Linked DNA regions of Homo sapiens. The protein of the gene in region 5 purifies or fractionates together with the protein of the main gene of each other region. This does not show direct contact. Each region holds a gene or a part of one and is shown on either strand. Other genes may lie near its edges.

Region 1 (3,500 bases), on a different chromosome or scaffold from region 5:
CACAGAAGCATTCTGTGTTGTGAGAGAATAGTAGGAGAAACTGAGTTGGTTTTTTTCTGTATCCTCAGAATTGATGTCAGGATTGGGATTTGCTAGAGTGGCTCTAGCTAGAGTGGCTCATCGAAGCATGGTTTAGGAAGAAAAAGGATAAATGGATGGGAAATGAGGAACTTTTGACTCCTGGGTGGTCAGATGGTCACCCCTGCTATGGAGCCACAACTGTGCTGTGCTCAGGTACTTAAAAATTACCAGTGGAATTCAAAGATAGATCCAACTCCAAGGGAGTTGGTTCACTGGGTGCATAAGGAAACGCAAACAATAAGAAACAAACAAAATATACAATCCCTTGATTATTGTTATTTGTGATAGCTAAAATCAAAGTGAAAGAGTGCTGGATTGTACCTTGATGCTAGACCAAGCTCAGGTTTCATTTGGTTTAAGCCTTGGCCACCAGCCTCAAAGCCACCTTGCAAGGGTAAAAAGTACCCCTAAGACCTGTATTTGCTGTATTTTGCCCAGTTTGGAGAAATTTAAAAAGTCAGAAGTTAGAGATTACATTGAGAAATGTGATCTGAAATTGCCTGGGGCAGTAGTCAGGCTTATTAATCAAGATAAAGGCTGACAAATGGGGAAGGGTAGATTTCTGTTGGAAAGGCAAAGCAAATATCTCTAATTCTTACTGATCTGTAACGAAACTGATTTTTTTTGTACCATGCTCATACTGCCATATGGTAATATTGTTGGCAGATTAAACTCCCTTGTGTAAATAAGTCTTATAATACTGATTGATGATTATATGTATTGTGAAATTGAGTTGAAGCCTCCTCAGGATATAATACCTATGGAAAGTGACTGGCCTGAGGAGGAACTGGATCTCACTATCAGCTGATTTCCATCCTGAATAGTTCTGCACAAGGTACAAATAACAGTAGATCAAGGGAAAAGAAAGCTGGTACAAGATGATAAAGATGTTTCTAATGGCTTCTGTCAACCTAAAGGAAGAAACTAAGGCACAAAATACAATTTTAAAGAATTTATTTGCACCATAATGAGGACAGCTGCCCAGCAGACTCAGATCCAAGTGGATTTGAGCTCCATTTGGCCCTTGTTACAAACAGGTTTTTAAAGGCCAAAAATTCGGGACAGGATGTGGGCTGATACAAAGTTGTTTGGCAGGAATTCTCTTTGGTTTACAGAAATAACATTGATTAGTGATTGGCTATACATTGTTCTTTGTATCACAGATTCCAGGAACATGAAGATAATGGGTGAGGGTCACATTGTGCAGTAACACTTTAGATATTTGCCAGCGAGCCTGGAAACTACAAGGAAGGAAAAAAAGAACAAAGTGTTTTTAAACAATTTCCCCTAGGCATGGGGGTGTGTCCTGTGACTAAAGTCTCATTCTCATGTCTCTCTGGGCCTGATAAACTTTGCATACCTCACATTCCTCATACTGCTGAGCTATTTTTTTTTCTCTTCATAGGACCGAGTAGGTTTTTTTTGTTTTGTTTTGTTTTGTTTTGAGACGGAGTCATCCAGGCTGGAGTGCAGTGGCGTGATCTCGGCTCACTGCAACCTCCACCTCCTGGGTTCAAGCCATTCTTGTGCCTCAGTCTCCTGAGTAGCTGGGATTATAGGTGCCCACTACCACACTCGGCTAATTTTTGTATTTTTAGTAGAGATGAGGTTTCGCCGTGTTGGCCAGGCTGGTCTCAAACTCCTGACCTCTGGTAATCCGCCCGCCTCAGCCTCCCAAAGTGCTGAGATTACAGGTGTGAGCCACTGCGCCCATCCTAGTTGCTTCTTTAAACCTATCCCTATCCCACAGTAGCTTCTCCAGATGATAGGCATATTTGTGTTTGTACTCTTGTAGATATGTCTGTTATATAAATGCAACAAGTGTAAACATCCTTGACAGATATATGGACCTTTTTGCTGTAAGGGATCCCTGTTTGAAACCAGGGGGTGGCCTATGATACTATGGTGTATATATTTTGGTTTTTGTCAAGTTCCTGGCTCACAGCTTCTATAACCCTTGCAATTTCCCAAGTGACTAGAGCCGTAAGAGTGTATTTTGTTGAGATATTTGGCCATTTGTCCTCGGTTCCTGAAACAGCTCCAGAGCATAAAAGTGAAAGACAGTCTTTTGTGGGTTTTTTTTTTTTTTTTTTTTTTTAATGAAATCTCACTGTCATCCAGGCTGGATGGAGTACAGTGGCACCATCTCTGCTCACTGCAACCTCAACCTCCGCCTCTCGGGTTCAAGCAGTTCTCGTGCCTCAGCCTACTTAGTAGCTGGGTTTGGAGGTGCCTGCCACCAAGCCCGACTAATTTTTGTATTTTTAGTAGAAATGAGGTTTCACCGTGTTGGCCAGGTGGGTCTCCAACCCCTGACCTCAGGTGATCCACTTGCCTTGGCTCCCAAAGTGCCGGGGTAACAGGAACGAGCCACTGCGCCCTGGGCTATGTTGTTATTTTTAACAGGCCTCTTTCAACCACATCTGAACTTATGTTAATGAGGTGATTTTTGGATAGTCCCTAGATGGCCACATGGTAGGGGGTGCTGGTTGCTAGGGAACAAACCTTCTGCCTTGGGGAGGGCATAGTAGCTAAAGGTTGAGCCAGTGGCCAGTGATTTAATTAATCGTGCCTTTGTAATGAAGTCTCCTTTGTAATGAAGTCTCTGTAAAAACCCAAAGGACTGAGTCCAGGGGGCCTTCAGGAAGGTAAACAATAATACATTCATGTCATGGGAGGGTGGGGCACCCCAGCTCCACAGGGATGGAAGCTCCTGTGCTTGGGACCCTTCAAGACCTCACCTATAAAGGAAAAGATATATAAGTATCTTTTCATCTGGCTGTTCATTTATATCCTTTAAAATATCCTATATAACTGGTAAATGTGTTAGTCCCTGAGTTCTGTGTGCCACCCTAGGAAATTACTTGAACCCCAGGGGGTTGTGGGAACCCCAGTTTATAACCAGTCTGTAAGAAGCAGAGGCAAAAGAACCTGGAGCTTTCAGTTAGCATTGAAAATGAGGGCGGGGCAGTTTTATGAAACTGAGCCCTGAACCTGTGTGATCCGATGCTCTCTCTCCAGGTAGATAGTATCAGAATTGAATTAGAGAACATCTAGCTGGAGTCTGCTGCAGAATCGTTTGCTTGATGTGTGGGAAATTCTCCCTAGGCCTTATGAGAGTATAGAGGGAGAAACTGAGTTTATTTTTTCTACTCCTTATCACAGTTTCATGGTTTAACTCTTACTGTTAAATAATAGGAATTTTTTTTTTTTTTTTTTTTTGGAGACAGAGTCTCACTTTGTTACCCTGGCTGGAGTGCAGTGGTGCGATCTCTGCTCTGCTCACTGCAACCTCTGCCACCCGGATTCAAGTGATTCTCCTGCCTTAGCACCCCGAGTAGCTGGGATTACAGGCGCCTGCCACCGTGCCTGGCTAATTTTTGTAGTTTTAGTAGAGACGGGGTTTCACCATCTTGGCC
Region 2 (3,500 bases), on a different chromosome or scaffold from region 5:
TCCATTTGAATTCAACTCAGTTCAAATATTTGCTATGTGCAGAGTTAAACTTGTGTAGCACATCCTCTCTAGGATTAATGATAAAACTATTGACAAACTCCAAAAGCACGTACATCCACATGATAAAACTGCACTTCCCATCATTTGCCTGGTTTTCAAAACTGTTTTGTGTCACTATCTCTTACGGCCTTCTTGACTAGAGAAGACTTAAACCAATATGATAGCTTTTGGCTGACTGAAAATACAGTGTTCATGGGCTCAAGATACTTTATTTACTCATTACTGACCATCCTGCATCCCTCATTGCCCTCTCCTCCCCAACACCAGAGCAGCACAGGCGCATGCACTTGTACACATACAAAGTGGCACACTAGCTGACTTGATGTTCTGGCCCCCTGGGATGTATCCAAAACTCATTGGTGCCAACTCCTCTAGAATTAAAAGCTCACTCAAGACTGCTTCTGTAAGTACACACTCAGTATCAATCACAGGAACTTTATTTTCCATGCACAGATAGTGTCTGGATCTATGTAATGCTTGTACAGGCATTAATCACATTCATGACAGCTCCAACCTCATAGAGGATGCCTATATGCTTACGTGTATTTCTGGGAGAATCAGTGAAAGTGAAGTTCGCGTACCAGAAGTGACATTAAAGATGGACAGGTCAAGGTGAATGCTGACCTTACTCCCGGACTGAGATCATAATCAAAAGAGGGAAAGACCAGTGAAAATTGGCCAGTCTCAACAACAAACAACTATTTTTTTTTCTAAGAAGCTTCATGGTACAATCTTTCTATAACCTTATACATTAAAGATTTATTGGCACCTACTGTAAGTGCTAAGTTCAAGAATGCAATGTTGACTGAATTTTTCATTGAATTCTTCAATGAATGAATTTAACAATGAATGAATGATGAATGTAAGAATGGATTCTTTACCCTCAAATAATGTGGTCGAGTCAAGGAGACAGATAAATTGAAAAACAATACAGTGGATAACAGAACAAATTATGGAAAATGTACTATGGGAGCAGAGCACTCACTCCCGAACCAGCAGTTAATCTCTTCTGTTCAACCTCAGTCCATAAAGGCTACAAAGTGGCCACTGAACTCTTTTCACCTATTACTGCTCTACCAAAGGCCCCATCATGTTTCTAGGATGTTTGCAGGCTAACACAACACAAACCATAACTAACTCACATGCACGAACACTTCAAACAATTTCAATGACTTTAGAAATTTTTCTAGTTGAGTTGATGACTCCTCATGAGTTCTATCAATCATTATTTTACCAGCGTTTTTTGTTGTTGTTCCAAAACAACACTGCCAGATGGAGATGTTCCATGTCTGCACTGTCCCATGTGATTGCCACTAGCCACACAGATTACTGAGCACTTGAAATGTGGATGGTGTGATTAGGGAACTGAATTGTTTTATTTTAATAAATTTTAAATTACATAGCTACATCTGCCTAGTGGCTATGGTATTAAACAGGACATTTCTAAAATACAAGTGTTTTAAGATTGTGCTATATGATATTTTTTCTTTCTTTAATTTCTTTAATTTCTTTAAACACAGAGAAAAATTGGTTTCCTTTTGTAATCTGAAGTTACTTCTAGGAATTAATCTCAATAAGACACTAAAAGTTGAAATACAATTTAAATGTATATATTTTATATATATATACACAAACACATATATATATATACACTTTTATGTATATGCATATATATACATTTATATATGTATATACACACATATCTCTCTCTTGTTTAAATTGGCTCTGACTTTTACCATTGGAATTCTTAATGGAGCAGGAAGCATTTTAAAGTATTTGAGAGTTAACATATTCAACACATTAAGAGATATTTGGAAAAGACTTATTTTCGACTAGTTGTGAACAGAAAAAGTATCTTTAAAACAAGATTTAAAGAAAGTTTTCATTGTGGGATTGAATCAGATTAACTGGGTTGTGAGCATCATGAGTTTAAGTCTCTGTATGTTGATGCATAGCTGAATTATCAGCGCCTAGCATGGTGCCTTGCAGATGTCGGGCACTTAGTGAACATCTAGTGAATGAGTAGTTAAAGTAGCATGGCTGGAACGATTCTGTATCTGGATCACAGTGATTGCTACATGACCATATGCATCGGTGAAAACTTTCAAGATGGTAAAAATGTAAATTATGCCTTAATTTTCAAAAAAGGATAAAAAAGTAATACAAGAGTACATGGGCAAAATCATGAAAGGGATCCTCAGAAAAGCAAATGGGACTGTGAAATGTACCATCACATCACATGAAAGCAAGCTAGTGAATGCCAAACAGCAAATTGATCCTGGGAATGAAAAGAGGAAAAGCCTCAGGCTCTGGATTGGGAAGGAATACACAGGCTGAATCAGGATTTGTGATGTTAGGCAACTTATCTGAGTTCTCTGTGCCGGGTTCCCTCATTTGTAAAAGGTGTAAGATGAAAACACCAATATCAAAGGGTTTTGAGGAGAATGAAATGAGAAAATGTACATAAAATGCTCAGTGCTGAAACTGCACCTAGTAGACACTTGAGCAGATGGTAACTGAAAATGAAACACAGGCTCATCTTCTTAATTATGCCTTCCTTTGAGATCTTCTGGTCCTGACTGAGGGGGTTCCATTTCCATGCAACAGTCTGAACGGTCAGCAAATGGGTGGTCAAGCAAATCTCTCACTTTAGACAGTACTCAAATCTTTTCGGAGTTAAAGGGAATGAGAAAACGCAGCTTATGCTTCCAGAAAAACCTGAATTTTTGCCAGAAGCAAAATTCCCACAACATAAAATTTTAAGCAAGATCTTGAATCTCTAGTGCAGACATGAGAGTAGAAATGAATTCATCAATGAAATGATTTCTCCTGGCAAACTTCCCTGACTGGAAGCAACCACAGTATACGTAAAAAGGAGAGAGAAATGAAATAAAGAAAATTGCAACTCTGCAATGAAAAGGAATTAATTTTCTGAATAGAGGCTAGTTATTATTTGGGAAAAAGGCATGAATATTTTTTATATGTGGTTACAATTTGTTTTCAGAGGATAAATAGATCAAACTGAGAGTCACAACATATTGAATTTCAGACTCTATAACCAGCATAAATTAAGAAGTTAATTCTTCCAGAGGAGTTGGGTATAATTTATTGTTAATGTGGCTCTTAAAGCAGTAAGATGTGACTGAGAAGTACAGAATCTGATTCATTACATATTTAATAATAATACTTAAACATTTGAACTTAGTGTACCTTGCAGCACTATAATTCACTTAATTCAAAGATCCTGAATTCCTTCATTAATTGGAAGAAATTATTCCTTAAAAGCTCTTAAAATATCTACCTCTCCTCTATGACTCATAGTTAAGCCTCCTTACAGGAAAGCCACTGTAGTTTTTCCCATAAGATACACCTGTTCAGTGGGTCAAGAAAAATTTGTTTTGGTTCATGTATTCTGATAAATTTTTTGTCTGGAAAGTTAT
Region 3 (3,500 bases), on a different chromosome or scaffold from region 5:
ATTTGGGGTTTGACATGAGAGACAAATGGGAGATAAAATCTATTTATTAGCCTAAGAAAGAGATGGCATTATATTACAGAGGAATAAACTCAAACTAGGAATTTTAAGACTTTTGTTTTCATATCTGTATGTCATTGAATATGGCCCCCTTAACTTCTCTAAGCCTGCATTTCTGTATCAATTTTTTAAAAATCCCACTCAATCTACCTGAGTAGAGTTACAAAAATATGATGAAAAAATAAATGTGAAACATTTTTAAAAACAGGCCTTATAGCTACATAGAAGTTATAATGAAAATAATGCTTCAAATTACTAGCTTTGTCACTTTGAATAATATGGTTTGTTAAAGAAGAGGTAAGTAAGGTTTTCTCCATTCTGGAGGTAGTCTTGAATCGGCAACTATGAAAAGTTTAAAATTATCAAGGTGAAATATGATTAGGAAGACACTGTAGAGAACCAGCAAGCCTATATGACATTTGTAATGAAGGGAGTGAAGGAAAGAGAGTGGGAGAAGTTTCTGGAGGTTCAAAGTTGAGAATGGGAATGCTTGGGCTTAAACAGGAAATTGGCACCAGGTTGTTTGGTAAGGCAAGGGGATTAGGCATAGAACACAGATGGTCAAGGTGGGTGGAACAACATGGGCAAAGAGAATGAATGGCATTTAGAGCTGCCTATTTTCTCACTCATTTGCCATCTTCAATGGTTCTATGCTAAATATGCTAGGGTTCTTGAGAGAATGAGAGACAGCCCTTGCCTTAATAGGGTGCACAGGTTGGATGGGGTGGGGCTGGTGTCAAATGGTGAGAAAGGAGGAGCTGAAGTCACTATAAGGGGTGATGGGGAGACTTCGAAGACAAGGGAAGAAATATAGCTCCACCTAGAGGGGGCATTTGCCTTGGAAAACCTTTGGTGCCTTCAATTTCCGACTCAAGATTTCACCCAAATTCCACAGCTGAAGTACAAGGATTTGCCTTCTTTCCCTTCATGTATATGTTTTCATTAAAGGACACTCTTCTCTTCTGGTATAAATTTTCCTGAAAAGGACATCTACAGGGAGTGCCATGTCTTAAAAATTATATTGATTCTAAATAAACTCAGTCTGAATTCTTAAGTTGTCACTTCCAATAATTTGTTTCTGCTACGTTATGTGGCAAATGTGAAATGAAAACACGAAGGAATCAGGAGTTCAATTTCCCTTCCAGAATAAACAGCATTAAAGGAACAAACAGACATAATGCTTTTGAAATAGACGTTGCGTACCATTTAGCCTTTTGTGAGCTCCACTTTCCTTTTTCTCATAAAAATGTGATCCCTTTGTCATTGGAACTGCTTAGGGCAACAATTGTACATATCTTCCTCTAACCTGTGTTGTAGTAATTAGTGTTTTAATGTTCTTACATATATATTGAGTAGATCATTAGCTGCTTGAAGACATATTTATTTGTCCTGTTTCCCTCATCACACTACCTACCATATAGTATGTCAGTCACTATGCGTAAAAGTCTGGTAGGGATAAAAATAAAATAACAGGAAGTCCTTTACTTCAATCTCCTCCTCCAAATAGAATTGTGCCTGAATGATTTCCTTCAGTATTCATTGAAAAAATATTAAAAATGTGAGTCCAGAGCTCATTAGAGAGAATCTTCCTTCAATTCTCTTCAGATCTGAGAATTTTCCTTGTGAAGGAGTTAAAGCTCAAAGAAGAGTTGTGACAATACTAAAGCATTTGGAGAGGAGAGAGGAAGGCGGGAAACTGAAATATTTGGAAATAAATGTACACATTTGGAAGACAAGAAAAAAAAAAGCAAAACAAAACATGAAAAAAGGAGTGCCCAAAGAAATTAGGAAAACATTAAGACAATAACATATCAAGGAGGTTACAGTATGAGATAATCATAAAATGTTGGGATTAGCAATCTGTGACTTTTAAAGCATCTTTTCCAGAGATGGGTGAGGGTATAATGGATTTTAATTGAGATCTCCTTTAAATACATTTCTAATAAAGAATTTCACAAGTTCACACCACGTACCAAACACAAAGTATTAGATATTGTGAAACCATAGAGATAGACACCATGTTCTATTTCTTAAACATGCTACATTGTCCAGCACAATGTAGTATTAGGCATCCAACATACGTACAATAAATATTGTTAAATTGGCTGGCCACAGGAGCAAGAAAAATTGTATTGTTGGAGTAGGACCCCGAGACGATGTGATGGACATGAGTAACTCCAGCTGCGCCTCTACATTGATGTTGGGAAACTGAGAAGAGAATGAGGTCAACATTGCAGTGATGAAAATGTTGCCTGACCCTTAGGCAGGGTCTTGAATCAAAAAAAAAAAAAAAAATGGGGGAAAAATGCCATTGAATCAGTAGAGAGGGCACTGGTGTTGAAAACATCAGCTAGGAAGGTCCAAGCTTCCAAGAATGCCAACATATGGGCAGGCATTCCTGGTACATCCGTACATAGAGAAATGTATGCCATCATAGCAAGAGGGAATTGGGCAAGACGTTCTGGGACCTGTTGGGTGGGAAATAGTGGCAACCAAATTAATGGAGAAATGAGAGAAAAGAAGGAGAAATAGGTAAATGTAAAAGCAGGAAGAAAAGGGAGCAAAGGGTTAGAGACAGAATGCTATTTGTGTTTTAAAATTATGTTTTAGCTTTTGCTAAGAGCAATTCTTAGAATTAAGAGCCCAATTATCAGTTACTATGAGTCACTTTTTTCAAGATTAATATACAGCGCTTGATTTTTTGTTACACTATGTGTGAAGTTGAAAAAAATCTAAGACTTCTATTTTTAGAAAACTGGATATGATTTTTTTCTGTTTGAGATATCACTTTATCTCAACCCACTCTGAAAAAATGGTTCAATAAATAAAGCCTAGAAAAATGAATTAAATTTTATCCCTAAAAATATCTCAAACATGAAGGAGTCATTGTATTCCTTGTCCACCCTGAAGAAATAGAGATTTGTGGTGAATGTGATCTACATAATTAAGTCCACAATATTCCCATATTTATAATACCCTCTGATAGTGTTCCATCATAGCTACCCTTTTAAGATACTGTTTTAATTTCTTATTTACTAAATGCCAAAATAGAAAGAAAAAGAGGTTTGTTATATTTTACAATCTAGAAATATTGTAATGACACCATGAAAACTATGCCGCACACTAGACTGGCTTGAAGTGGATGGAAAAATAGCCCAGTGGGTGGAAACTTGAATTGTCCATAAACATCAGAAGGAAAAACAACTTTCCACGAGGCCATGGCCCAAATTCCACTTAAGCCAATTGACTCTGGATGGAAAAAAGCAAGCCCAGCTCATAAAAAGAAGGTTCATATCTGAGTATCATCTTACTTCGCCTCCCACAGCAGTGACATGACCTTGTGCCAGAAGGAGGCAAAAACTCTTCGACTATTCATTTAGAACAGAAGCCAGAGCTAAAAACATTCCTCACCCTTATGGAGAAGCCCAACTCAACATCACTAG
Region 4 (3,500 bases), on a different chromosome or scaffold from region 5:
AGATTCTCATTACAAAATACTTTAAGATAGGCAGGATAGATATTATCTCCATTTTACAATGAGAGAACTGAGGTTTTCATGATTTGTAAGTAGAAGAACTTACTTAAGAGCAGAAATCCAGGTCCACTAACTCCTTTACATCATGAATTTAGATAAATATCAATAATTAGTGCTCTAAAAACTTGGAACTGCACATTATTCCTTTGTACAAGGCAGCATTTTAATTTTAAATATTATATATAAAATACCTGAAGGTTATGTTCAAAGCAGGTCAGGGTGTGATTAAATAGATTAAGGAAATATACTGTGCTGTTTGATAATTCTTCACTGTTGTTTGTTAAACAATCTGTCAAAAAAATTCAAAAAGTATATTAATATAACTCAAGGAACAATTCTATGTTGTCATTTATATCTTAAGCTATCAGCTTCGTTTCACACTACAGTAATTCTTTATTCAAACAAGCATGAATTTTCCAAATATATGAAGCTTACTCCTTTTATTTTCCAAAAGTTAAAAAAGTCATAACCATTTTCATGAACATGTTAAAATAATCACATACTCTCTTTTCATAAAAATATACCAAATAAAATTCAAATGGACTTTTGATGGCACAAGGTCATAATCACGGAATATCAGCTATCAAATGCTGCCTTAACAGTGCTATTTAGGCATAAGACTGTTTACCCTGCATTAATTTTACCGAAACTCATATGCCTTATCATTTTTTGTGTCAAATTTCATAGTTCTCTGCATCTTCCAACTTCACTAATGAGTCATTTATTGTACCTAATGGGGTAACTTTTAAAATTCGCTCTTTCTAATCCATCACGAGTTGGGAGCCCAGAGAAACAAACTGGTGAGAATTTTGCCTAAAATACTGACGTGGGGGCTTCAAGTAAAGTCTAGAAACAAAATTGTTTTACATTTTTAAAAATCCTACATAAATGGTATTTCTCTGCAACTGGCTATTCTTGCTTAGAGTTAGCTCAAGTTCACTCATCCCTTTTATTTTCTATGTATGTGTATATCACAATTTATGTATCCATTTTCCCTTCTTCAGGGAATAATCTATTCTTCTTTTTTTTTTTAAGAAACGGGGTCTTGCTCGGTTGCCCAGGCTGGAGTGCAGTGGCACAATTTGCCAGCTCATTGCAGACTTGAACTCCTGGGCGCAAGTGATGTTCCCACCTCAACCTTCCAAAGTGCTGGGATTACTTAAAGGCATGAGCCACTGCGCTCAGCCAGGGAACCTAGTCTTTATCCTCAGGTAAACCTTTGTCTTTACCTCTCCTTGTGTTCTCAGCCTGCTATCTCCAATCGAGGTTCAACTGCCTGGTTCCAGATCTTGGAACTTGTGGTCAGTCGTTTCCATCTGACTCTCCTAGAATCCTTGCCCTCTTTATCTTCCACATATTCACAGCCATTTTCATCCCTGGACAGTCCCCATCTACTTTCTGTACTCTCAGTCTGGTTACAGAATACTACTACAGAAATTCTAAAATGATAATGAAGGGACTCAATTCAAATTCATGTGTTCTGATCTCGGGGCAACAAAATGATCCTTGTAGATGCCCTCCTAATTGCTCTGCAAGGGATGTTCCACATATTTTCTCATCTCTAGTCCCAGCCCTACTCTTGTTCCCCTTAATTTCAACAGATGGCTTTGTATTATGCCCACCTTATTTAGAAATTCAGGGCCATCAGATAGGATCTCTCTCAACTGGAAGTGGAAAGACAACATGCAAAGCTATTGCAATTACCCAGGAGAAAGGCAGCAAGGCAAGTAGAATTTGTGGAGAAAAGAGAGACGGACTAGGTAGACACTAGGATATGACACACTAAGGGACATCCATGTACTCTGACAGACAACAATTACTACAACGAAAGTTAACACTTACTAAATACTTGCTATGTTCTAAGAACTATGCTTACACTGCACTTTAAACACATTTGCCCATTTAATTCTTGCAGTGATTCCATGAGGGAAAAATTATCATTATCTCCATTTTATAAATAAGGAACAGAGATAGGTTTAGATAAATTAAGGAAGTTGCCCAAGGACATAAAACTGGTAAGTAAAAAGCTAGACTCTGTACTCAGTCTGATTCTTGAGCCTGCACTCTCAAACACTGCAAAATAAACATATTTATATCTACATTCTAAACCATTAAAAGTTCAAGACTCGGAATCTACAAATACATGCCACTGCCTACTCCCTCCACTACCCATAGATATCTTACACCATACAGGGATTCAGGCAGTCCCCACCAACTGATCAGAGTTAGCAACTGAGATGAAACCTAAACCTGGTAGACAGGGGCAGACAGCACAGTAAAGCTCCTTTGTGCAAATCAGAAAAAGATATTCCCTCTGGGTAGATAAATTACAAAAGGTCATTCCTGCCTCCAGAAGCTAAGCTGGAATTCAGCCCCATTCACCTCCTTGTACAGCCCCCTTGTGCAGGGCTCCTTCTGCACCCATTGTACACAGGATCCTCTTGGTAAACCTATTTCAGGAGTTGTCCCCTCTCTGAACTCACATACTCTACATTCTCTGAAGCTTTATCTTCTCCAGAACATGAATCTCATTCTAACTTCTCACCCTTATTTAAAAAATCTGAGGGATCACTACAAATTAGGAAACTAAGCCACAGAAATAGGTGATATGCTGATGATCATACCACAAGTTAATAAGCCATTGATATAAAAATAGGCCAGCATGGTGGTTCACACCTGTAATCCCAGCATTTTGGGAGGCAGGTGGATTGCCTGAGTCCAGGAGTTCGAGACCAGCCTGGGCAACATGGTGAAAACCTGTCTCTACAAATAATACAAAATTAGCCAGGCATGGTGGCGTGCATCTGTGGTCCCAGCGGCTTGGGAGGCTGAGAGGGGAGAATTGCTTCAGCTTGGGGAGGTCGAGGCTGCAATAAGCTGTGATTGCGCCACTGCATTCCAACCTGCATGAAAGAGTAAGAACTTGTCTCATTGCCCCTCTTAATGCTAGTTTAATATCATCATGAAGTAGCCCGCAATCCTTTTAGGGATGAGGCAGAGTTGATATAAATAAAAACAAACAATTACATAGTTTTTGTACATGTTTACAAAAACAATTATATAGTTTTTGTAGTTGATGTGTTGCAGGGAAGTTAAGGGAACACAATTTCATTCACAACAGTTGTACATCTGTGTTATAATGAGCTATGTCGTGACAACTGACATAACAATATAGGGATAAAAGGGGTCCACATACTGCCAGCAAAAGTAGTATAAAGTGCATTATCATGAGAGAGCAATAGCAAATTTCTTCTATGCAAGATACCTAATTAAAACAAATAATTTCTTTTGCAAAAGCAATTTATAAAGAAAGCTTCTCTGAAGAACAAAAGAACTTAATTTCTTTTATTAATAATTACATTAATGCATTACCATCAAAACTTTTTCAATGATCATTAGATGGTGGTAACATAAAGCATAAAGCAGTTCATTTATATAATGGG
Region 5 (2,173 bases):
TGGATAGAAAGTCACTCTTTGGCAAAAGTGTTAGAATTTGCTTTTGTGCCATCTATTCCTTTTATGGCATCTATCTTGAAAGTAATCTTGTATTGGAGATTGAAAGATGCTGTAATTTAGAAATTAACATGATATCTTAAATTACCTTTATGAAATATAGTTTTGTATAATAGCATAGATTTTCCTTCAAAAAATGAACATTTATATATCTACAAAAATATGGAGAAGAGTAATTTGAAAGCCTACTTTCTGAAGAAAATGGTGGGATTTTTTTTTATCATGATTAAATATCAAAAAATTGCCCTATGAAAACTTTAAATCTCTAAAACATTTGAAATACTACCATATTTGTGATTTATTGAGAATAAAAATCCATTTTGAAATGTAAAATTTTTATGATCTGATTCAGTTTTAAGAAAACATGAATGAACTAGAAGATATTAAAAACATTTGACATTGGTAAGAAATATTGATACTGATATTGATTTTTATATAGGTATTTATTTCAGAATTGATATTTTGAGAAAAATACATGTGAGTCATTTTTTCTGTTTCTCTTTTCTCTTAACGATTATCACTGTAATTCTGAATCTGAAAGGTAAAACAATTAGTCAAAATATTATTGCCATCATTCTACCTGTGTTATGAAACTACTTATTCATAGTTAATTCTCATTAACACTTACATTTCCATAAAGAAAACTCAAGTATTAATAAAAGAGACTTTACTGGCTTAAGAGGGCTGTGAAAGATTTTTGATAGTGAATCATGACCCTAAGGGAGAGATTTGTGTGATAAAAGTATTGTATATAATAGATCAGCGATTTTTGTAAGGCAAACAGAATTTGTAAGTTGGCAGATCTTCCTAAGTTGCAAAATGTAATGATGAGCTTGGTGGAGAAGAATGAGTCGTTCTTGGAATACCTATGTGCAGCCACTACCCATCTCAATGTCACCTTGTTTGCATTCTTGGATAGCTTGTATATGTAGTAGTTTGATGAATAATTTAAAGAAAAACACCTAAAATTTGAAAAATGATTGTAGGATCAAAAAAGGCAGATGAAATTACTTAATACTCAGTGTTTTGGAGAGTATTCCTTTTAGTTTGTTGGTTGGCTGGTTTGAACGATAGAAATATGCAGCATGCAATATATGCTTATATTTCATTTTAATTTCTGATATATAATGAACTTCTTGGGAGAGGTACTGAATCTTTGATGTTTTTTGTCATTGTTCTCAAGTGCAATATAACAATGTAACCAAATCTAGATAATTTCAAAGTTGTCATTAATTTAGTAAGCCTAATATAAACAAATATTTGTATTATTTTTGTTAGCAGGAAAGAGTGATTAAGTGAGGTTATTTACCCCTAAATGGTCCATTCTGCATTGTATTTCAGGCTGGAAATGAATTATTCTTTACCAGTTTTGAAACACTTTGAAATATCCTAAGGTAACTTGGAAGCTGTGTAGTATATCAAATTAATTTGCTACCTAATAACATAGAAAGTAAATATCTTTGTGGTCACCCACATTGGGTGAGACAGAAAATGAATCTGTTCTAAAATTTGTAATTTGCTAACTTGATTTGAGTTAGTGAAAACTGGTACAGTGTTCTGCTTGATTTACAACATGTAACTTGTGACTGTACAATAAACATAAGCATATGGTACCACTTTTGTGTATGGGGTTTATCCTTTCTGTGACGTGTTTTTGTTTTTTGATTACATGAGCTAGCAATAATGCACTAAAAGGATGACCTCAGAGGTAACTTTCTGTAAAACTTCAAATCTTGAATGTCAGTTATTTGATGAAAAGAAACACAAAAAGAGCAAAATGTACCACATTAAAATTCATCCTTAGAAAGGCAAATATGTATTTGCCTGAAATATAAGAATTATTTTATTTCTAAACAAACATTTCTAAATTCATTATGCTAACCTTTATTATTTTTACATTATCAGATTCCTTTTAAAATGCACATTTACATCTTTTATAATTTTTAATTATAGTGTATATATGTCATTGCATATATGCAGTTGCAATATACATATGCAATTCTAGTATAAAAATACCTATTTTTATAAATGAAAAGTACCAAGAAGAAAATTAAGTGTTGAGATGCTTGGGAAATTATACTGAAGTAGCATAATACACCACCGTAAATTCCTATGG
Region 6 (3,500 bases), on a different chromosome or scaffold from region 5:
GAAAAAGTAATAGATCTTACCTTCAGGGCATTTACAGTACACTCAGGGAGTGGAGGAAGAAATTGCATAGCCAAGTACCCCCAAATACCTTTAGTAAAAGGCAGAATGGCATTAACAGTGTGTACTAGGGGGTCAGAGGAAGTGAGAGCAGACAGCTCCTCAAAGCCTTTGCTTTAAGTCATGGGAGGTGAAGATTTCCAGGAGAGACTCAGAGGTGCTGGAGAACTTCACAGTTTCCTGTGAAGAAGGATGACTATTTAATGCTCTCGCAGTCTCCAGCCTCTCACAGCTACCCGTACCTACCCAGTTTTCCCCTCGTTCTTCTCTGAGGATTTTAAACTGGACAGCGCTGGAGTTGTTTTCTATTAGTCAATATCCTACGGCAAGGACTCCAGGGTGCACACTCCCAAGGATTTTCGTGTTGTATTCTATGTAAATTGCATCCCTTTCTGGTACTTCTGGAGCTGGCGTGTAGAGGCCAGTGTGGTGCCTCAGGAAATATTATTACTCATCCACATTCACATTTAAGTGTCCAGAATCCTGCTATTATGCATCTACTCTTATCTGAATGAAGTTATTAAATGGAAGGACCTGAGAGGGAAGATTTGGATTTTATCCCTACACCTTGGCTGTCCACTCCTCGGGCTGCCTCTGCCATGTGCTTGCTACCTGGAGAAGGAGCCAATCTCTTTAAAGCTTTCTGTCCATAAAGAGGGTAGAGGGATACTAATAGAGAAAGGTTAGGAGGATGAAGATTTCAACTCAAAGAGAAGGTAGCCATTCTGCTTTAAGCTTTCTGTCCATAAAGAGGGTAAGGGATGCTAATGGAGAAAGGTTAGAAGGACGAAGATTTCAACTCAAAGGCTGTCTCTAATCCTATAAAGGAAGGTCATGCTCTCCCTGCACCTCGTCTGAGGCTGGGGGAGCCACATCAGTGATGCTGTCAGGGAACTGACCCCTGCACTGGGAAGCACAGAGCTAGGGCCATACTTGGGCTTCAAGAGGCCTGTGAAACCTTGGAGATTCTATATCTTCAAGAATGATGTGGGTATGTGTAGTCTTGTATTTCCGAAGAGAAGGAGTTCTTGCCCCCTCCACAATGTAAAGAACCACTAGATTCCAGTCTCTAGAGCCTTTCCTAGCCGTCATTTCCGCTTCTGCTCTGGTGGTGGAACAGGGCTTTGGATGAGGAGCTGTAACCCCAGTGCTTCTGAGAGTGGTAGACAACTCACTGAGTGAACGAGAACACGCCAGGGACAGCTCAGAATGTCAGCGGAGCCTATGGATTGTGATTGCTCTGTGACTATGGGCAGGTCTTTTTACCTTTGAGCAGGGGTTAGAGGGAGCAGCCGGCCAGGCAGTGTGCTCCACCCTTTAAGGGAGAGAGGGTGGAAGGTTCAGGAGCAGAGGAAGGGGTGTGTAGAAAAGCCCTGCCTTGCCTTATAGAGGCAGCAGGACCAGCGGGCAGACAGAAGTGGCAAGAGGGGATGTTGCTGCTTTGAAGTGGTTTCCTGCTTCATAAAAGTGAAAGGCCTCGGCTAGGCTGGGTAAATATTACGTTGGCCTCTGACCTCCCACCTCCCCTGACTGCTCCCCGGTTTCCCATTTTTTTCTCCTGAGGAACAAAAATACCTGAAGGAGAAGAGCCAATTTTTTGAATTTCACTGAGAACAGCGTTCTTAGCGGGAGCCCAGCCCAAGCCAGACAGGAAGACCCAGGCTCCTTCCCCGTCCACAGGCAGGAGGCCCCTCGTGAGTCAGCAAAGCTCTCGTTCCAGGTCTCCACTCCACGTTTTAGGGCAGTGGTGTTTTCCAGGAGCAGGGCCGGCTGGGATTTCACAGTGCCCTGACAACACTGATGCCCCACCCTGACTCCAGCTGCTTAAAACTTTCTAACAAGTCCCTTCACTCTCTGTGACATTAAAACCCAGGCTACGAGGTTTTCTGTAAGGCAAACACCCCACCCCCTGAGGTTTATCTGTAAATGAACAAAATTTGAGTCTACCGCCCCACTCTGAGTGACCCACAGGGGGTCAAGTTCTTCAAGTTCTTCAGCTTTCTTGGCCCACAGACTTAGAGAGAAAGATCTGAACTGCATGGGGAGCTGGAAGCCCCTCCCAGCACAATCCTGCAGGAGGTTTAGGCCCCACTGAGATGGTTGAGAGCAGATGGTCAGGAAGAGCCTGGTGTCAAAGAATCAAACAGGAACTAAGTGCCTGCCTTCACACTTGTAGCCCTTCCCACTTCCTAAAGATTTCTCACCTGTTGACCGGTGCTCACCCTCCGTTTGTTCCCTGGTCCCAGGAGGGAGATAAGAGGTTAGTTACGCTCTGGCAGAATTGGCTCCTGCCCCTTACCCAGCACCTCGGTTTCTCCATCTGTATAATGGAATGAATACTCAAGCACCTTCACTTGTCTTTGTTTCTGGAGCCAGGCCCGGGAAGAGGGTGTTAGGAAAGTTGGAAAAACGACAAGTGCTGGAAACAAGGAAAACTATTCTAAATTTTGGGACAGGTATAAGAAGCGAAACTAGGGTTATTTTCCCCCTCTCTCTCCAAATTTGTTTGGAATTTTCTGAGAAAAGTAAGATTTTATTTAAAGAAAATCTCTATGCTAAAGAATAAAGGGCTGAAGACTTGGTGGAGATGGGACATAGAGAAGAAAGCCAATAGTGGCCCTGCAAGGAGACCACATTCAGGGCTTGTGGTCAGCATTTAGCCAGTGGGATTGGAATTTGAATTCTGCCTTTGCCGCCCTTGGGTTTTTGGTGCCTTCAGAGCTCTGAGAGTGTACATGAATGACACTGTCGTAGGATTGGTAGGTTGGCATTGCTGTGGGAGTCAACCCTTCATGGAATAAGAAAACGCAGAGCTCATGGGTATCTGGCTGCCTGGCTGCAACAGGGCTTGCATCTCTCCTGCACAGAGTAGCTTTTACCCAGGCCCACATAGTGGATGTGAAACCCAAGTCCAAATTGGGTAAGTGCATTGCCGTGAGTCACACAGCAAGCTGCCATTCACTGCCCTCCAATTGCTAGGAGGTTTGTTTGCCCCAGCGTCACCCGCCACACTCTCTTGATCTGCCCACTTAGCTACCTTTTCTTTCCAGTCTCTTGTCCCCTGCACTGTGCCCAGTGACCTCCCCCATCTCTCTCTTCCTTGGTTTTGAGCAGACAGGCATCTCACGAGAGCTCCTGGGGGCAGGGACATGGATGGAGCAGACACATCACAGAGTGTGTTAGCAGGAGTGGAGTCCAGGAGCCCAAGCTGGACGCTGGGGCTCAGGGATCAGATCCTTGGTAGCACTGATCATCGGTCAAAACCTAGCAGGATGTCTGGGGAGAAGCATTAGCTGTCTTCTAGTAGGCCAAGAAGCTCCCCAAGCAACACAAGGAGCTTTGTCCCTGTTGGAAATGCAGAGTGCGGGATGGGGCCTGTGAGAGGAGAGTCCTAAACATCCCATAGCACTGTCCAAGAGCCTGCTGCAGAAAATGGGGTCAGC
Region 7 (3,500 bases), on a different chromosome or scaffold from region 5:
ATTGCTTTAACCCCAAGGCAGGCAAGTTTCCATGAGACAAGGTTATACTCACAGGTGTGTACTCCCCACAGTCTTTCAATAATTAAATGCCTTTGGCTCTTGGTCCAGGTCATTCCTCTGTAGTTTATTCAGTTTCTGACCCGCAGATGCCTCTGTGGAGCACAAGTCCAGCAAGTTGTAGCCCTAGAAGTACAGGGTTTCAGCTGTAACTTGAAGCAAGCTACAGGTAGCTTCAAGCATGTCACTGTTGTGGGAGCTTCAAGCAAATAGTAATAGGAGATGCAAGCAAGTTTCTCTCTGGGCCTCAGAAGGGAGGGATGGCATCTGCCCCTCAAAGCTCCATTCACCTCTGCATTCTTGATGGCCCCACGGGTGGCTTCGGGCAGGCATAGTCCCCACTCTTATCCTATCTGCAGGCTCAAATCGTTCCCAGCCCACGGCAGAAAGATGTGGAGATGCCTCTGGCCACCACTTTGGGGATCACCATCAAGGGGTCCCTTTAGTAAGCCAGGCTGGCTCTCCCTGCGCACCCCGATGAGGTAGACCTCATTCCCCCGTCTAGGAGGTGGATATGCTAAGGAGAGCGCGGGCCCTGCTCTAGGCCTGGCCCCACTCATCAGCTGTGTGAGCATGACTAAATCCACCAACCCCGCCAACCCTGTTTTCTCTCTGGTAAAATGAGGACACTTCCTTCTAGGGCATTTAAAAGAGATGCTTGTGGAAAAGTCCAGCACAGTGCCTGGTACATAGTAGGCACTTGGCAACTAATAATTATTAGTGTTTTGTTTTGCTTTTTTTTTCTTTTTGAGACAAGATCTCACTCTGTCGTCCAGGCTGGAGTGCAGTGACACGATCACGGCTCACTGCAACCTCCCCCTCCCGGGCTCAAGCCATCCTCCCACCTCAGCCTTCTGAGTAGCTGGGACCACTGGCATGTGCCAAAATGCCCGGCTAATTTTTTGTACTTTTGGTAGAGATGGGGTTTTGCCATGTTGTCCAGGTTGGTCTCGAACTCCTGGCCTCAAGTGATCCTCCCAGTCTGCCCACCTCAGCCTCCCAAAGGGCTGGAATTACAGGTGTGAGCCACTACGCCCATCCTATTCGTGTTATCCTTTAACCAATTTCAGTGTCCAAGTGGATTGAATCTTTACTCACCTTGAGAGACTCCCTGTACCTCGAGACCTTGGAACTTAGCCTTGGAGTTGTTTTTGTCAATCTCTCCCCTTTGTCTCTTCCTACTCTTCCTACCCCACAGAGATGGAAGGTAAGGTGGAGCTAGCCCAAGCTGTCTGCAGCTGGCCTGGTCCCCCGAGTGTCTTCTGATCCTGCTCCCCTAGCTATCCTCAGCTCACCTATCCAGAAGCCTCTCCTGTTGAGCCTCTTGGCTAATGCTGAGTCCTGGGTGTCTGTTGTCAAGTCCTTTGAAACAGCAGTTTGCTGCCACGCAGGACTTTCTGCAGGACTTATAGAGCAGGATCTATCCTCCTGCTCAGTCCCATACCCTCTCCCCTCTCCCCGTGTCCCTAGATGTCACAGCATCTGAGGGGAGGCCTTTTAGAACCAGTAAAAATCTCAAAGTAATAGGGATCTGTATGTTTAGAAACAGATATTTATAATGTTCTCAAAAAATGAACATCGTGGGCCGGGCGCAGTGGCTCACGCCTGTAATCCCAACATTTTGGGAAGCCAAGGCGGGTGGATCACTTCAGGTCAGCAGTTTGAGACCAGCCTGGCCAACACAGTGAAACCCCATCTCCGTCTCTACCAAAACTACAAAAATTAGCCAGGCATGGTGACAGGCACCTGTAATCCCAGCTATTTGAGAGGCTGAGATGGGAAAATCGCTTGCACCTGGGAGGCAGAGGCTGCAGTGAGCCGAGATGGTGCCACTGCACTCCAGCCTGGGTGACAGAGAGACTCTGTCTCAAACAACAACAACAACAACAAAAACATTGTTACCTGAAGATTGTCCAGTAAATCAAGTGAATGATGACATTTTAAAAATTAGCTTTAATGACTGGGCGCAGTAGCTCACACCTGTAATCCCAGCACTTTGGGAGGCCGAAGTGGGCAGATCACGAGGTCAGGAGATGGAGACCATCCTGGCCAACATGGTGAAACCCCATCTCTACTAAAAATACAAAAATTAGCTGCGTGTGGTGGCGCGCACCTGTAATCCCAGCTACTCTGGAGGCTGAGGCAGGAGAATGGCTTGAACCCGGGAGGTGGAGATTGCAGTGAGCTGAGTGCATGCCACCGCACTCCAGCCTGGCAACAGAGCGAGACTCCACCTCAAAAAAAAAAAAAAAAGCTTTATTCTAGCCGAAAGAATAGAATTAAGAATAGTAATAGCTGAAAGTGGTTTTTAACCCATTCTGAGCTTCAGAATGATCTGAGGAGCCTTTTGAAAAATAAAGACATTTGGACCCAGATCCAGTGAGTCTGTTTGTGGGGTGGGCCGGGCCTCTGTCTGTTCAGGGAGTAAGGGAGAACCCACCCCTGAGTAAAACTTTACAACGGCATTTCATCAGGGCACACTGGCCACCTGTCTGTGCGTTTTCATAGAATCCACAGTGACTTGCTCTCAGGGCCCTGATGGGTGATTCAGACCCCACATGGCTCTCCTCAGGGGGGTGAGGAGGAGAGGGTGGGGGAGTCAGGCTCTAGTTCCTGAATCAGACCAAGCCTCATTCTTGCTTTCCTTCCATCCCAGCCCTGTGGGCAGCTGACAGGCATCCCTCCCGCACCATCTGCCACCCATCCAGGCCCACCTTGAGCCTGTTTTCAAGGCAATCTGTGAGAAGCTCCTGAGTGAGAAACACTTCCTTACATATTCTGTTTAAAAAGAAAAGGTCTGTCCATGTGCATGGTGCATTTCATCAGTTGGAGACTCTTCTTTAAGACCTCAGGGGCATGGGGGGATTGTGAAAGATGCAGCTATGACAAGCACTCACAGAGGAGGAATTGGGGCACGGGGGACTCGGGGGTGTCTGGAGAGCAAGCTCTGGAGTCAGCTGAGCCCTTTGCCAGCAGGCACAGAGCCCTCTCTATGGCGGGCCAGGTGGGTGCCCTTCACCCGGCACCCTGTGAGAGTGCCATTGTGCCTGGCACAGAGGCAGCGCCCAGGAAATGTTTTTCCACCAAATGACTTTTTAAGTGAGCAGAGAAGAGGCATCTGCAGCGGGGCTGGGAAGAGGATAGGACAGAAGAGAAAAGAAAGGGAGAATAAGAACTGTGTGAACTCAAGGAAGCCCTATAGCTTTCCGCAGGGGCCCATTTCCTCAGGGTCATGGGGATGCAAAGAGATAATGAATGTTAAAGAATTCACCTGTCAAATGTGAGCTCACCTGTGCATTCTCTTCTCCATGAAGCATGGGAGCTTGCTGGTTCTGAGGTCTCTTCCTACTCCGGCCATCTTGGTGGTTCTACCTGAGTGCGTGGAGAGGGCTGGAGTTCGCAGCTGCTCTTCATCAAGGGCCCTGCCCCTGGGTGAATGGGAG

The links.
Region 1: the proteins of ITGAV (region 5) and VDAC2 fractionate together in Homo sapiens (co-fractionation; one large-scale study listed by BioGRID). This does not show direct contact.
Region 2: the proteins of ITGAV (region 5) and PTPRZ1 purify together in Homo sapiens (affinity purification with western blotting; 2 studies listed by BioGRID and IntAct, with this or other methods). This does not show direct contact.
Region 3: the proteins of ITGAV (region 5) and PTN purify together in Homo sapiens (affinity purification with western blotting, with the first as the bait; one study listed by BioGRID). This does not show direct contact.
Region 4: the proteins of ITGAV (region 5) and OSTM1 fractionate together in Homo sapiens (co-fractionation; one large-scale study listed by BioGRID). This does not show direct contact.
Region 6: the proteins of ITGAV (region 5) and PLXNA2 fractionate together in Homo sapiens (co-fractionation; one large-scale study listed by BioGRID). This does not show direct contact.
Region 7: the proteins of ITGAV (region 5) and ITGB5 purify together in Homo sapiens (affinity purification with western blotting; 2 studies listed by BioGRID, with this or other methods). This does not show direct contact.

What each region holds. Positions count from the first base shown.
Region 1 is NC_000010.11:75,224,296-75,227,795, forward strand, and holds part of VDAC2 (non-selective voltage-gated ion channel VDAC2), read left to right. Parts: intron 1-3,500. UniProt on the Homo sapiens protein: Non-selective voltage-gated ion channel that mediates the transport of anions and cations through the mitochondrion outer membrane and plasma membrane.
Region 2 is NC_000007.14:121,876,161-121,879,660, reverse strand, and holds part of PTPRZ1 (receptor-type tyrosine-protein phosphatase zeta isoform 1 precursor), read right to left. Parts: intron 1-3,500. UniProt on the Homo sapiens protein: Protein tyrosine phosphatase that negatively regulates oligodendrocyte precursor proliferation in the embryonic spinal cord. Required for normal differentiation of the precursor cells into mature, fully myelinating oligodendrocytes.
Region 3 is NC_000007.14:137,337,234-137,340,733, forward strand, and holds part of PTN (pleiotrophin isoform 1 precursor), read right to left. Parts: intron 1-3,500.
Region 4 is NC_000006.12:108,054,242-108,057,741, forward strand, and holds part of OSTM1 (osteopetrosis-associated transmembrane protein 1 precursor), read right to left. Parts: intron 347-3,500; coding exon 249-346; intron 1-248. UniProt on the Homo sapiens protein: Required for osteoclast and melanocyte maturation and function.
Region 5 is NC_000002.12:186,679,229-186,681,401, forward strand, and holds the end of ITGAV (integrin alpha-V isoform 1 preproprotein), read left to right. Parts: 3' UTR 1-1,673; downstream 1,674-2,173.
Region 6 is NC_000001.11:208,234,385-208,237,884, reverse strand, and holds part of PLXNA2 (plexin-A2 precursor), read left to right. Parts: intron 1-3,500. UniProt on the Homo sapiens protein: Coreceptor for SEMA3A and SEMA6A. Necessary for signaling by SEMA6A and class 3 semaphorins and subsequent remodeling of the cytoskeleton. Plays a role in axon guidance, invasive growth and cell migration.
Region 7 is NC_000003.12:124,796,866-124,800,365, reverse strand, and holds part of ITGB5 (integrin beta-5 isoform a precursor), read left to right. Parts: intron 1-3,500.